Homo sapiens: one gene and its partners. The protein of the gene in region 1 purifies or fractionates together with the protein of each later gene. This does not show direct contact. Each region holds a gene or a part of one and is shown in the gene's direction. Other genes may lie near its edges. The genes, in order: GBP1, DTD2 and FERMT2.

Region 1 (3,544 bases):
ATTTGACCACCAAGGACAATAGGGCCAAGAGAAAGAATTCCCAGAGGAGAAAGGATGGCAGGAAGACAAACAGGAACACCTGCTTACAGCCATTTCCTACTTCTCACTCTGTGTTCTCTGGGTCCTAAGGCTGAAGAGATTCTGCAGACATACTTGAAATCCAAGGAGTCTATGACTGATGCAATTCTCCAGACAGACCAGACTCTCACAGAAAAAGAAAAGGAGATTGAAGGTGAGGAGTGAGTTAAGAGATTAGATGGCCTCAAAAGCTCCAAAAATTGAAATAACTTGACTGGATAAACATGGGACCCTTTAACTAGAGCAAGATCCACAAAGGTGTGTCTTACTTGCCGAGGTCATCTCTGAGTAGGGCATATGCAGTCAGCAACAACGACAGGTAAGTGTATAAGGAAGAATGAGGCAACAAGATAACCCCACACAAATTTTTCTTCTGCCTTTTCCTCCTCAGTGGAACGTGTGAAAGCTGAGTCTGCACAGGCTTCAGCAAAAATGTTGCAGGAAATGCAAAGAAAGAATGAGCAGATGATGGAACAGAAGGAGAGGAGTTATCAGGAACACTTGAAACAACTGACTGAGAAGATGGAGAACGACAGGGTCCAGTTGCTGAAAGAGCAAGAGAGGACCCTCGCTCTTAAACTTCAGGTATCTAATTGCATCACCTTGAGGTTTCTGTTTTTCTGTTTTCTCTCCATTCTCCCTGATCGCAAACTTAGTGTGGCAGAGAGAACATGAAGCCCAGGGTAAGGACCCTGCTTGCTTACTTGTACTTTTCAATTCCTGTCTGTCCAGCCTGACTGGCTACTGCCAAGTCTGGTCACTGAAAGTTTTTTATTTGCAGTTGTGTAACATTCAGTCCTTTATCAATATATCCTTCATTTCAAGGAAGCTATTATCTGCTAGGCATCATTAAAATATCTGTATCTCGGTGGGGCATTGTGGCTCACGCCTGTAATCCCAGCACTCTGGGAGGCCAAGGCGGGCGGATCACGAGGTCAGGAGATTGAGGCCATCCTGGCTAACACGGTGAAATCCCGTCACTACTAAAAATACAAAAAATTTAGCTAGATGTGGTGGCGGGCACCTGTAGTCCCAGCTACTCAGGAAGCTGAGGCAGGAGAATGGAGTGAACCCAGGAGGCAGAGCTTGCAGTGAGCTGAGATCGCACCACTGCACTCCAGCCTGGGCAACAGAGCGAGACTCCAAAAAAAAAAATCTGTATCTCTTGCTTAATAACATATGTAGCAAGAACTATATCCTTATTACTTAGAAGAAGAAACAAAGGTTCCAAAAAGAATAAATAATTAAGTTCACACAGCTAGTAAATATATCAGAGCTGTCTTCATCACTTAGCGGAATCCACAATGATTATTTGTTTCTGTGACACCTACTATGAAATTAGATTTAAGAAACCTTTATGAGCAGAAAGGCTCCTAACCCTCACACCTGTGTGATACTCTGCTAATTCTGATTATTTTTAATGTCCTGCTCCCAGTTTGTTTTGAGTTGTGAGCTATGTGCAGAAACTCAGTATGGTCAGTCTGGCACTCAGATTTCTTACCTGTCTTCTGCTACCCCTGACACCAAGGTGTGGCAGCTTAGACCAAATTTCCTAATCCATGATTCATACACCTTATGAGATTTTGAGGATACTTTGCTTATTTCGGTGTTATGTCATATACATAATAGGGTAAGGAACATGGCTGTGCTTTGGTCAATGATAGGCCAAAGTATGACATTTACGTCTTGCGTGACTCAGAGAAAATTAAATAACAAATCATTTAATGTGGAAACCAGATAGAATGTTTCAATTTGCCTGATGCTACACTTTACTCAGCCTTCGTTTGTCCCTTTTTAGGAACAGGAGCAACTACTAAAAGAGGGATTTCAAAAAGAAAGCAGAATAATGAAAAATGAGATACAGGATCTCCAGACGAAAATGAGACGACGAAAGGCATGTACCATAAGCTAAAGACCAGAGCCTTCCTGTCACCCCTAACCAAGGCATAATTGAAACAATTTTAGAATTTGGAACAAGCGTCACTACATTTGATAATAATTAGATCTTGCATCATAACACCAAAAGTTTATAAAGGCATGTGGTACAATGATCAAAATCATGTTTTTTCTTAAAAAAAAAAAAAGACTGTAAATTGTGCAACAAAGATGCATTTACCTCTGTATCAACTCAGGAAATCTCATAAGCTGGTACCACTCAGGAGAAGTTTATTCTTCCAGATGACCAGCAGTAGACAAATGGATACTGAGCAGAGTCTTAGGTAAAAGTCTTGGGAAATATTTGGGCATTGGTCTGGCCAAGTCTACAATGTCCCAATATCAAGGACAACCACCCTAGCTTCTTAGTGAAGACAATGTACAGTTATCCGTTAGATCAAGACTACACGGTCTATGAGCAATAATGTGATTTCTGGACATTGCCCATGTATAATCCTCACTGATGATTTCAAGCTAAAGCAAACCACCTTATACAGAGATCTAGAATCTCTTTATGTTCTCCAGAGGAAGGTGGAAGAAACCATGGGCAGGAGTAGGAATTGAGTGATAAACAATTGGGCTAATGAAGAAAACTTCTCTTATTGTTCAGTTCATCCAGATTATAACTTCAATGGGACACTTTAGACCATTAGACAATTGACACTGGATTAAACAAATTCACATAATGCCAAATACACAATGTATTTATAGCAACGTATAATTTGCAAAGATGGACTTTAAAAGATGCTGTGTAACTAAACTGAAATAATTCAATTACTTATTATTTAGAATGTTAAAGCTTATGATAGTCTTTTCTAACTCTTAACACTCATACTTGAAAACTTTCTGAGTTTCCCCAGAAGAGAATATGGGATTTTTTTTGACATTTTTGACTCATTTAATAATGCTCTTGTGTTTACCTAGTATATGTAGACTTTGTCTTATGTGTGAAAAGTCCTAGGAAAGTGGTTGATGTTTCTTATAGCAATTAAAAATTATTTTTGAACTGAAAATACAATGTATTTCACTAGGCTTCTTATTTCTGATTTTCTTTTTTGCAGTTATTTTTATCAGAAAATAAGGTTTTACTCTTTATGGCAATGGCTGGTAATCTTTTCTGTAAAATACCAGATAGTAACGATTTATGGCTTTGCAGGTCATACAGTCTCTGTCTGAATTACTCAGCTCTGCATGTAGTGCAAACACAGCCATAGAAAATACATAAACCAATAGGTGTGGCTATGTTCCAATCAATTTTTACTTTCAATAACAGGATGGCACCCATAAGCCATAGTTTGCAGAACTCTGTTTTACAGAAACATTGGTCAGAGTTTTATATACCTGCATTGTGTTACTCACATGTATAAAAATCATATGGATTAGACTATATATATTACAATCTTGAAAAAACTATGCGGTTATTCAAAATAACACAGTGAGAAAAAAGCAAGGAAGCAGCTAATGCCATTAAATCCACATTAATAATCCTGTCTTTCCTAATTGCTTTGAGGCCTTTTGTTACCTTGAACTA
Region 2 (4,212 bases), on another chromosome or scaffold:
AAGAAACCCTCTCTGTAGAAAGATCTCTGCGAACCACATAACCTATTCTCTATAGACCTCCCTATTTCCTGCAGCCACATACAAATGGACACCAAAGTCTTTTCTTATTCTGGGACATAGCTAATGGTTTGTATGTCAAAGTTTCTTTCAGGCCTGTAAAATCTGAATCTGAGAGCCGGAGAGAAAAGAGACTCAGTAGTTATAATGACATAAAGGTGCAGACATGAAGCAATTCAACTTGTCTGTGCTTTGCAGACAAATGTCAACAACTGTTGGAATCCCTGCAATGCAACAATCAGAGATCATGTGAGATTTTGCTTTCTGTTTTTACTAAAAGTGTAAACCTGGCTGCAAGATAACCAGCAAACAAGCAGCTTCGATTTTGTGTACAAAGGACTGTTGATTATGCATGGACTATTTTCTTCAGTCACACTACTTTGTATGGATAGCAACACTGTCAGTGATGTCATCTTTTTAAACAACAGATCCGAATGTATAGGCACATTGTGTCAACTGAGCCCAAATCAATGACCTGGGTAATGCAATCAGGGTAACACTATTATTCCTCATCTAAACCATCCAAGCCCATAGACAAATAAATGCTAATCTGATGCATGTTTAAGGAATACGTTACATGGGAAAGAAAATCAAGCCCTTGTTTAGTTTTATTTACATTCTAATATGTACTTCCAGAAAATGCATCACAGAATTTACGTCATATGCATCAGAATAAGCTGTTTTATTTTTGTATTAGTAGCGGGCTAAGTTATTAACAATCATACTTTCTTGGATAAGAACATTTTTAACAAGGATATCTTCTAAAGAATGTGTATTCGTATAGCATACCAATACCTTTTCACAACTGTGGAATCAGAATAATTTATGGCATTCCCGATAGAGGAGGCAGCATTGTTTTTATTGATTGGAATAAGGAAAATTTTGAAGGATGTATATATAGCTTTTAGTTCCATCTCCGCTTGCTTTATGATTCGATTATTTGTTTACTTACTTTCATATGGGCATAACATGAATTTAAATCAAGCAGATTTAAAATTTTTCAACAGTTGGAACCTAAGCTTTCTGAGGTGAAAAATGTTTCTTAAAAGGTTTGTAGGAAAGAGATTTAACGAGTCTTTTCAATCGTTTAATAAAAGTATACACTGAGCGCCTTCTACAGAGTTGGGCAGGTGCTGCCGAGAAGCTTAGCGCTACGCCGGCCTCCAAGACCGCACATCCGGGACATTCGAGAGTCAGTCCGAGGCCCCGCCCTCCTAAGGGCGGGGCCACTGGGCAATCGGCGCAGGCCCTTCGTCGTGCCCCGCCTCGTCTGCCCCGCCAGCGCGTCGAGGGAGGGGCCAGCGACACATGGCCTAGTAACTGTCCGGCCGCGGCGCTGGCTTAAGCCATGGCTGAGGGTAGCCGGATTCCTCAGGCCCGGGCGCTCCTACAGCAGTGCCTGCACGCCCGGCTGCAAATTCGCCCAGCCGATGGGGACGTCGCGGCCCAGTGGGTGGAGGTAACGTCAGCCCGGCAGCTCTCGTTATCCTCCGGCGTGCGGGGCGGTTTTTTCCGCGTTGTCTCGGTGACTCGTCCGCTCTGTGTCTCCCTCTGAGACCGGCGGTCCGGCCGCGGGGATACCGGGTCAGCTTGAAGCTGGCCGCGGTGGCCTGCCTGGCTGCGCTTGTCTTTTCGGTCCAGCATCACCGTTCCCCAGCGCCAGTTGTAGCACCCGAGAGGAAGAGCGTGTCTCCCTTCTTGGGGGGACCACAGGTATTTGAAACTGAGTTCGGTGAACTTCAGGCCTTACTGTCTCAGACCCCTTGCAGCTCGTGGTCTATGCTGGTCGGGGGCAAGCTTGTAGGTCAGGTTTGCTGCAAGAGTTCATGATCTGCTTTGACTTACGCCTCAGATCGCGTCGAATTCCCCCCTATGTTGACTTGGTCTTAGCATAGAAATGAGATTTCCTAAGAAACAATTCTATTTCAAGAAGCCTTTTAAAAGTTTTGACCAATTTCCAACTGAGAAACAAAGACCTCTACTTTTATAACAATGTTGCCTTATCAAACACATTTCTCCAAAGAATTTAAAACATTTATGTCACTATGAGTTCCTTCTACTTTCATACATACTTTACTTTTTAAGACCGCCTGCCCCCACTGCATACAAAAACAAATAAAATTTTCTTTAAGGCCTCTGACGTATTTTTGGAGTACGTTGAAATGTAAGAAAAAAATTAGTTCATAATTAAGACTTTTGTAGATACTCAGAAACTTCAGTGTAGCAAAATCTCATTCGCTCGCCTTTTCTGCTGAATTCGGTCCCAGATCTAGCATTACTTAAAACAATTTTAGTTATTATTTTACATTTATTTTATTTTTTATATTTTATTTATTTATATTTTATTTTATTTTTTGAGATGAATTCTCGATCTGTCGCCCAGGCTGGAGTGCAGTGGCACGATCTCGGCTCACTGCAACCTCCGCCTCCCGGGTTCAAGCAATTTTCCTTCCTCAGCCTCCCGAGTAGCTGGGACAACAGGCGCAAGCTACCACGCTAACTTGTATTTTTAGCAGAGACGGGGTTTCGCCATTTTGGCCAGGCTTGTCTGGAACTCCTGACCTCAGGTGATCCACCTGCCTCAGCCTCCCAAACTGCTGGGATTACAAGCCTGAGCCACCGCACCCCGCCTACTTATTGTAAATAGTACCCGTGAACTATATGATGTGTGGGTGATTATTCTAAAATCAGAATCTGTTGCCCTGTGCTAATTTGGAAATATAAGCATAGAAATTCCTGTATTCTTATCTCTCTCCTTTCCCAGAAATTCACTTTTCTTATTTCTTATTTTTGTCATGATTTTTTGTGAGGTCTTGATTTCCTTATTTGAAATTTTATTATTTTATTTTGCCATCCTATCTAAAGAATTAACCTGCCAGGCGCGGTAATCCCAGCACTTTGGGAGGCCAAGGCCGGCGGATCACTTGAGGTCAGGAGTTTGAGACCAGCCTGGCCAACATGTTGAAATCCCGTCTCTACTAAAAATACAAAAATTAGCCGGGCTTGGTGGCGGGCACCTGTAATCCCAGCTACTCGGGAGGCTGAGGCAGGAGAATCTCTTGAATCCGGGAGGCAGAGGTTGTAGTGAGCCAAGATCACGCCACTGCACTCCAGCCTGAGCCACAGAGTGAAACCTCATCTCAAAAATAAATAATAAATAAAATAATTATCCTTTTTTTTTTTTTTTTTTTGAGACAGAGTCTCACTCTGTCACCCAGGCTGGAGTGCAATGGCGCAATCTCGGCTCACTGCAACCTCCGCCTCCCGGGTTCACGCCATTCTCCTGCCTCAGCCTCCCAAGCAGCTGGGACCACAGGCGCCCACCACCACGCCTGGCTAATTTGTTGTATTTTTACTAGAGACGGAGTTTCACCGTGCTAGCCAGGATGGTCTCGATCTCCTGACCTTGTGGTCCGCCCACCTCGGCCTCCCAAAGTGCTGGTATTGCAGGCTTGAGCCACCGTGCCCGGCCGAATTATCCATTTTTATAGTTGCATCCAGACACTATAATTGCAAACTATCAGTCATTTAGTTTCCTTCCATGCTTATTTATCTTTTTTATGTTGTTCAGGCTACATCTCCTTATGCAAAATCACATGTATTTTATTGCTGGCATCCAAACTATCAGTTTGTGTTTATAAACTTAAAAACTATTTTAAAGGCTTTCCCTTTCACTCCTACACACATAACTAAATTAGTTTAAAGAGCTGACAAGTAATTTAGATGGTGAGAAAATGTAAATTCTTTCTTCTTACATATTCTCTACCCTGTTCTATTATTAAAAGTTCTTGTTTTTTTAGAAACAGCATTTTAATTGTCAAGATTTGAAGGTTACTTTCTTTGCTTGTTCTTAGTTTCATTCATTTAGAACTTTGCTGTCACAGACTAATGTTTTTGTTCCTGGTAAGTGAACTTTTTAAAGCTACAGTGAGAATTATCTGTATTTTTCTATATATTTGAAATGTTTTATACCAAAGAAGTTATAAGGAAAGTGATTTTTGACTTGAAGTCACAGCTTAACATCTATTATGGAATAAATGAAAGGCAAAGACCTTAATGAGGAGATAATGTTAGTGGAAAGAACAGGTATCGTTCTGCAAATGATTAGGTATTTATTTCTGACATTGCATGTGTCCAAATATAAATATGCTTAAG
Region 3 (3,654 bases), on another chromosome or scaffold:
CTGGAACTACAGGAGCATGCCACCATGCCTGGCTAATTTTTGTATTTTTAGTAGAGACGGGGTTTCACCATGTTGGCTAGGCTGGTCTCAAACTCCTAACCTCAGGTGATCCACCCGCCTTGGCCTCTCAAAGTGCGGGCATTACAGGCATGAGCCACCGCACCTGGCCAGAATTTTATTTTTTTATTTTTATTTTTCGAAACACAGTCTCATTCTGTCACCCAGGCTGGACTGCAGTGGCACAATCTCTGCTCACTGCAACCTCCACCTCCTCGGTTCAAGCGATTCTCCTGTCTCAGCCTCCCAAGTAGCTGGGACTATAGGCGTGCACCACCACACCCAGCTTATTTTTTATATTTTTAGTGGAGACAGAGTTTCACCATGTTGGCCAGGCTGGTCTTGAACTCCTGACCTCAGGTGATCTGCCTGCCTCGGCCTCCCAAAGTGCTGGGATTACAGGCATGAGCCACCTTACAGTAACAGAATTTTAAAAAATAGGTGCACACCAATTGGGAATGGCTTACGTAAGTTATAGTACATGGAGGCAGTGTGTAGCCCTACAGCCAGACTGGCTGGGGTTTTTTTGTTTGTTGTTTTTGAGACGGAGTTTCGCTCTTGTCACCCAGGCTGGAGTGCAATGGTGCAGTCTCTCACTGCAAACTCCGCCTCCCGGGTTCAAGTGATTCTCCTGCCTCAGCCTCCCAAGTAGCTGGGATTACAGGCAGGCTGCCACCATGCCTGGCTAATTTTTTGTATTTTTAGTAGAGGCGGGGTTTCACCATGTTGGCCAGGCTGGTCTCGAACTCCTGACCTCAGGCAGTCTGCCCACCTTGGCTTCCCAAAGTGCTGGGATTACAGGCTTGAGCCACCGCGCCTGCCCAGACTGGCCGATTTATAGCTTGGCTGCAGCTTACTTGCTCTTGACCTTGGACAAGTTATTTAACCTTGCTTTGCCTCAGTTTGCTCCTCTGAAGTGAGAATAATAGAGTTGTTGTGAACGCTAAGTGAGTTTATTATCACATAGTGCCTACAGAACAAATAAGAACAACGAAGTGATTAAGTATGAATTGAAGAAGATACAAACTATAGGAAGTTGAAACGCAGATTTGGGTGGGTGGCTGATTCTATTAAATGTGTGATTGTATTTGTTCATTCTTGAATTGCTATAAGGAAATACCTGAGACTTGGTAACTTAGGAGAAAAGAGGTTTAATTGGCTCACAGTTCTGCAGGCTGTCCAGGAAGCATGGTGGCATCAGCTCCTGGGGAGGCCTCAGGAAACTTACAATTACAGCGGAAGGCGGAGGAGGAGCCAGCACTTCACGTGGCTGGAACAGGAGGTAGGGGTGGGAGTGGGGAGGTGCCACACACTTTAAACAACCAGATCTCATGAGAAGTCACTGACTATACAGTACCAAGCGGGGATGGTGCAAAACCATTATGAGAACTCCACCCCTGTGATTCAGTCACCTCCCACCAGGCCCCTCCTCCAACATTGGGGATTACAATTAGACATGCGATTTGGGCAGGGACACTGATCCAAACCATATCAGTGATTTAGGGGGAGTATCTTTTCTATATTAGAAACTTTATAAAGCAAATTGTCCATTCTAACTTGACTCAGTTTTGGATAGAAATTATAATCTCACCAGGTGCACATTTTCAGTATACTGACATTCTTCGTAACAGATTTATTTAATAGATCTTTGAAAGAAACAAGACTTTGCCTAGAAGTTAATGTTTTTTCACACTTTATCTACATGCACACTCTGTAGCAGAAATACCCTTTGCCCAACTGAGTTGGAGTAATGTGTTCAGCACATTTAATAAGTGTGGGGTGCCCAATTAGTCCTTTCAAAAGGTGTCACACAATTTTAAGTTTGAAAAATACCTGTCTAGTTTAAGGATCTAGCTTTTAAAGCCCCAGGACTAACGATCCCAGTATTCTTTAAATGCTGATAAAGAGTTCACAACTTTGCTTTGTGTTTTAGGATTAACAGTGTTCGGATTTTAGAGGGTTTTTTGTTTGTTTGTTTGTTTGTTTGTTTGAGATAGAGTCTTGCTTTGTTGCCTAGACTGGAGTGCATTGATGCAATCTTGGCTCACTGCAGCCTTCGCCTCCCGAATAGCGTGCACCACCACTCCTGGCAAATTTTTGTGTTTTTAGTAGAGACAGGGTTTCTCCATGTTGGCCAGGCTGATCTCGAATTCCTGACCTCAAGTGATTCAACCGCCTCAGCCTCCCAAAGTGCTGAGATTACAGGAGTGAGCCACCACACCTGGCCTAGATTTTACAGGTTTTTTTTAGTACTAACATTGGAAGAACACATGTCAGGGACATAAAATCAAATATCCTGTGTCCAGCAAGAGATTACATATTTTCAGTAAAAACTTTTTTTTTTTAACTTTGCTTCCTAGACTAGGTCATGACAGCTACAAAAATCTCTAGCATTAGCACCACTTTTTCACAGGCAGTGTTTCTATCATTGCATGGGGAGAAGAGTTAAAAATAGTAGGAAAGGAGATGGATTTCTAAGCTTAACCCTAAATTTAGGGAATGGAAAAGCCATTTTCTTTACATTAACAGTGTTATGCCCATTGCACATTTTCTTTTGAAAAATTATGACAACAGGACAAAATATAATTTAACAGAGCTAGGACTTGGGGGAGCTGCTTGTCCTTAATGTCATTCTGAACATTTTTAGATGCCTTAAATTCATCTCCTTAATTTTTGTAGTTTAAATAAAGGAGCACATACCATCTGTTGACTAATGTAACAAATTGTTATTTACGTAACCTCTACTATATGTCTAGCCCTAATACTAAGAAATCAGAAGATAAATAAGGCAATATCCCTTCCTTTTGAGATTTGACTATTAAATATATCTCTGTTTAGACTCTTTCTAGGGCAGACTTTTATCTCCCCTTTTACATTAATACTTTATTTGTTGTACCCCAGAACTTAAAAATTAAAAAAAACTTTATTTGTAAAATTGTTGAAACCTGTTTATTCACTGAGAAGACTTTACTATAAAATTATTCTTAATCTATATGAATTCAGTTCTATTGTGTTACCTTCAAATTGTATGGATTTCAAATGGTGGTAAAAGTTGTAGACATATTTGTCACTATATACTTGACTACAGCACAACTTCATTCTTTTAAATTGAACAAAAAAAACCGTTTTACTTAGGTTGTAGCTTCTAAGGTTCTTTACTCTGAAATCCACTTGAAATGTGTACTTCAGTTTATGATTCACAATTAGGGAAAATCTGTTTTTTCTTTTTCTCATTTTCTTTTCATTCTTTTGTTTCTGTCCTCTGTTGTGGCCTTTCCTTTACCTTCTGAATTCCTTTCTTTCCTTTCCTATAGGCACTGATGTTCTTTACATTGGCCCTCTGAAAGGTGAGCCTTGCCACAATTTAAAGACAAAAAGTGTTGGTCTGTCTGCTTCAGCTATATCCTTATTTTCTAATTCTCTTGAACTGATTTTTTTTCCCCAGAATTTCTGCCAACTTAATTATATTCTTAAGGCTTTATTACGTGTTTTAATGTTATACAAGGAGAATTAATTACACATGTTTTCATAACAGGTAAAATAATATACTAAGCTTTCCTTTCAGAATAAAACTTTTGTTTCACAATGTGCTTTATA

The links.
Region 2: the proteins of GBP1 (region 1) and DTD2 fractionate together in Homo sapiens (co-fractionation; one large-scale study listed by BioGRID). This does not show direct contact.
Region 3: the proteins of GBP1 (region 1) and FERMT2 fractionate together in Homo sapiens (co-fractionation; one large-scale study listed by BioGRID). This does not show direct contact.

What each region holds. Positions count from the first base shown.
Region 1 is NC_000001.11:89,051,801-89,055,344, reverse strand, and holds the end of GBP1 (guanylate-binding protein 1), read left to right. Parts: intron 1-129; coding exon 130-232; intron 233-469; coding exon 470-663; intron 664-1,876; coding exon 1,877-1,990; 3' UTR 1,991-3,026; downstream 3,027-3,544.
Region 2 is NC_000014.9:31,454,587-31,458,798, reverse strand, and holds the start of DTD2 (D-aminoacyl-tRNA deacylase 2), read left to right. Parts: upstream 1-1,292; 5' UTR 1,293-1,405; coding exon 1,406-1,516; intron 1,517-4,212. UniProt on the Homo sapiens protein: Deacylates mischarged D-aminoacyl-tRNAs. Also deacylates mischarged glycyl-tRNA(Ala), protecting cells against glycine mischarging by AlaRS. Probably acts by rejecting L-amino acids from its binding site rather than specific recognition of D-amino acids.
Region 3 is NC_000014.9:52,881,546-52,885,199, reverse strand, and holds part of FERMT2 (fermitin family homolog 2), read left to right. Parts: intron 1-3,371; coding exon of another isoform or gene 3,372-3,404; intron 3,405-3,654. UniProt on the Homo sapiens protein: Scaffolding protein that enhances integrin activation mediated by TLN1 and/or TLN2, but activates integrins only weakly by itself. Binds to membranes enriched in phosphoinositides.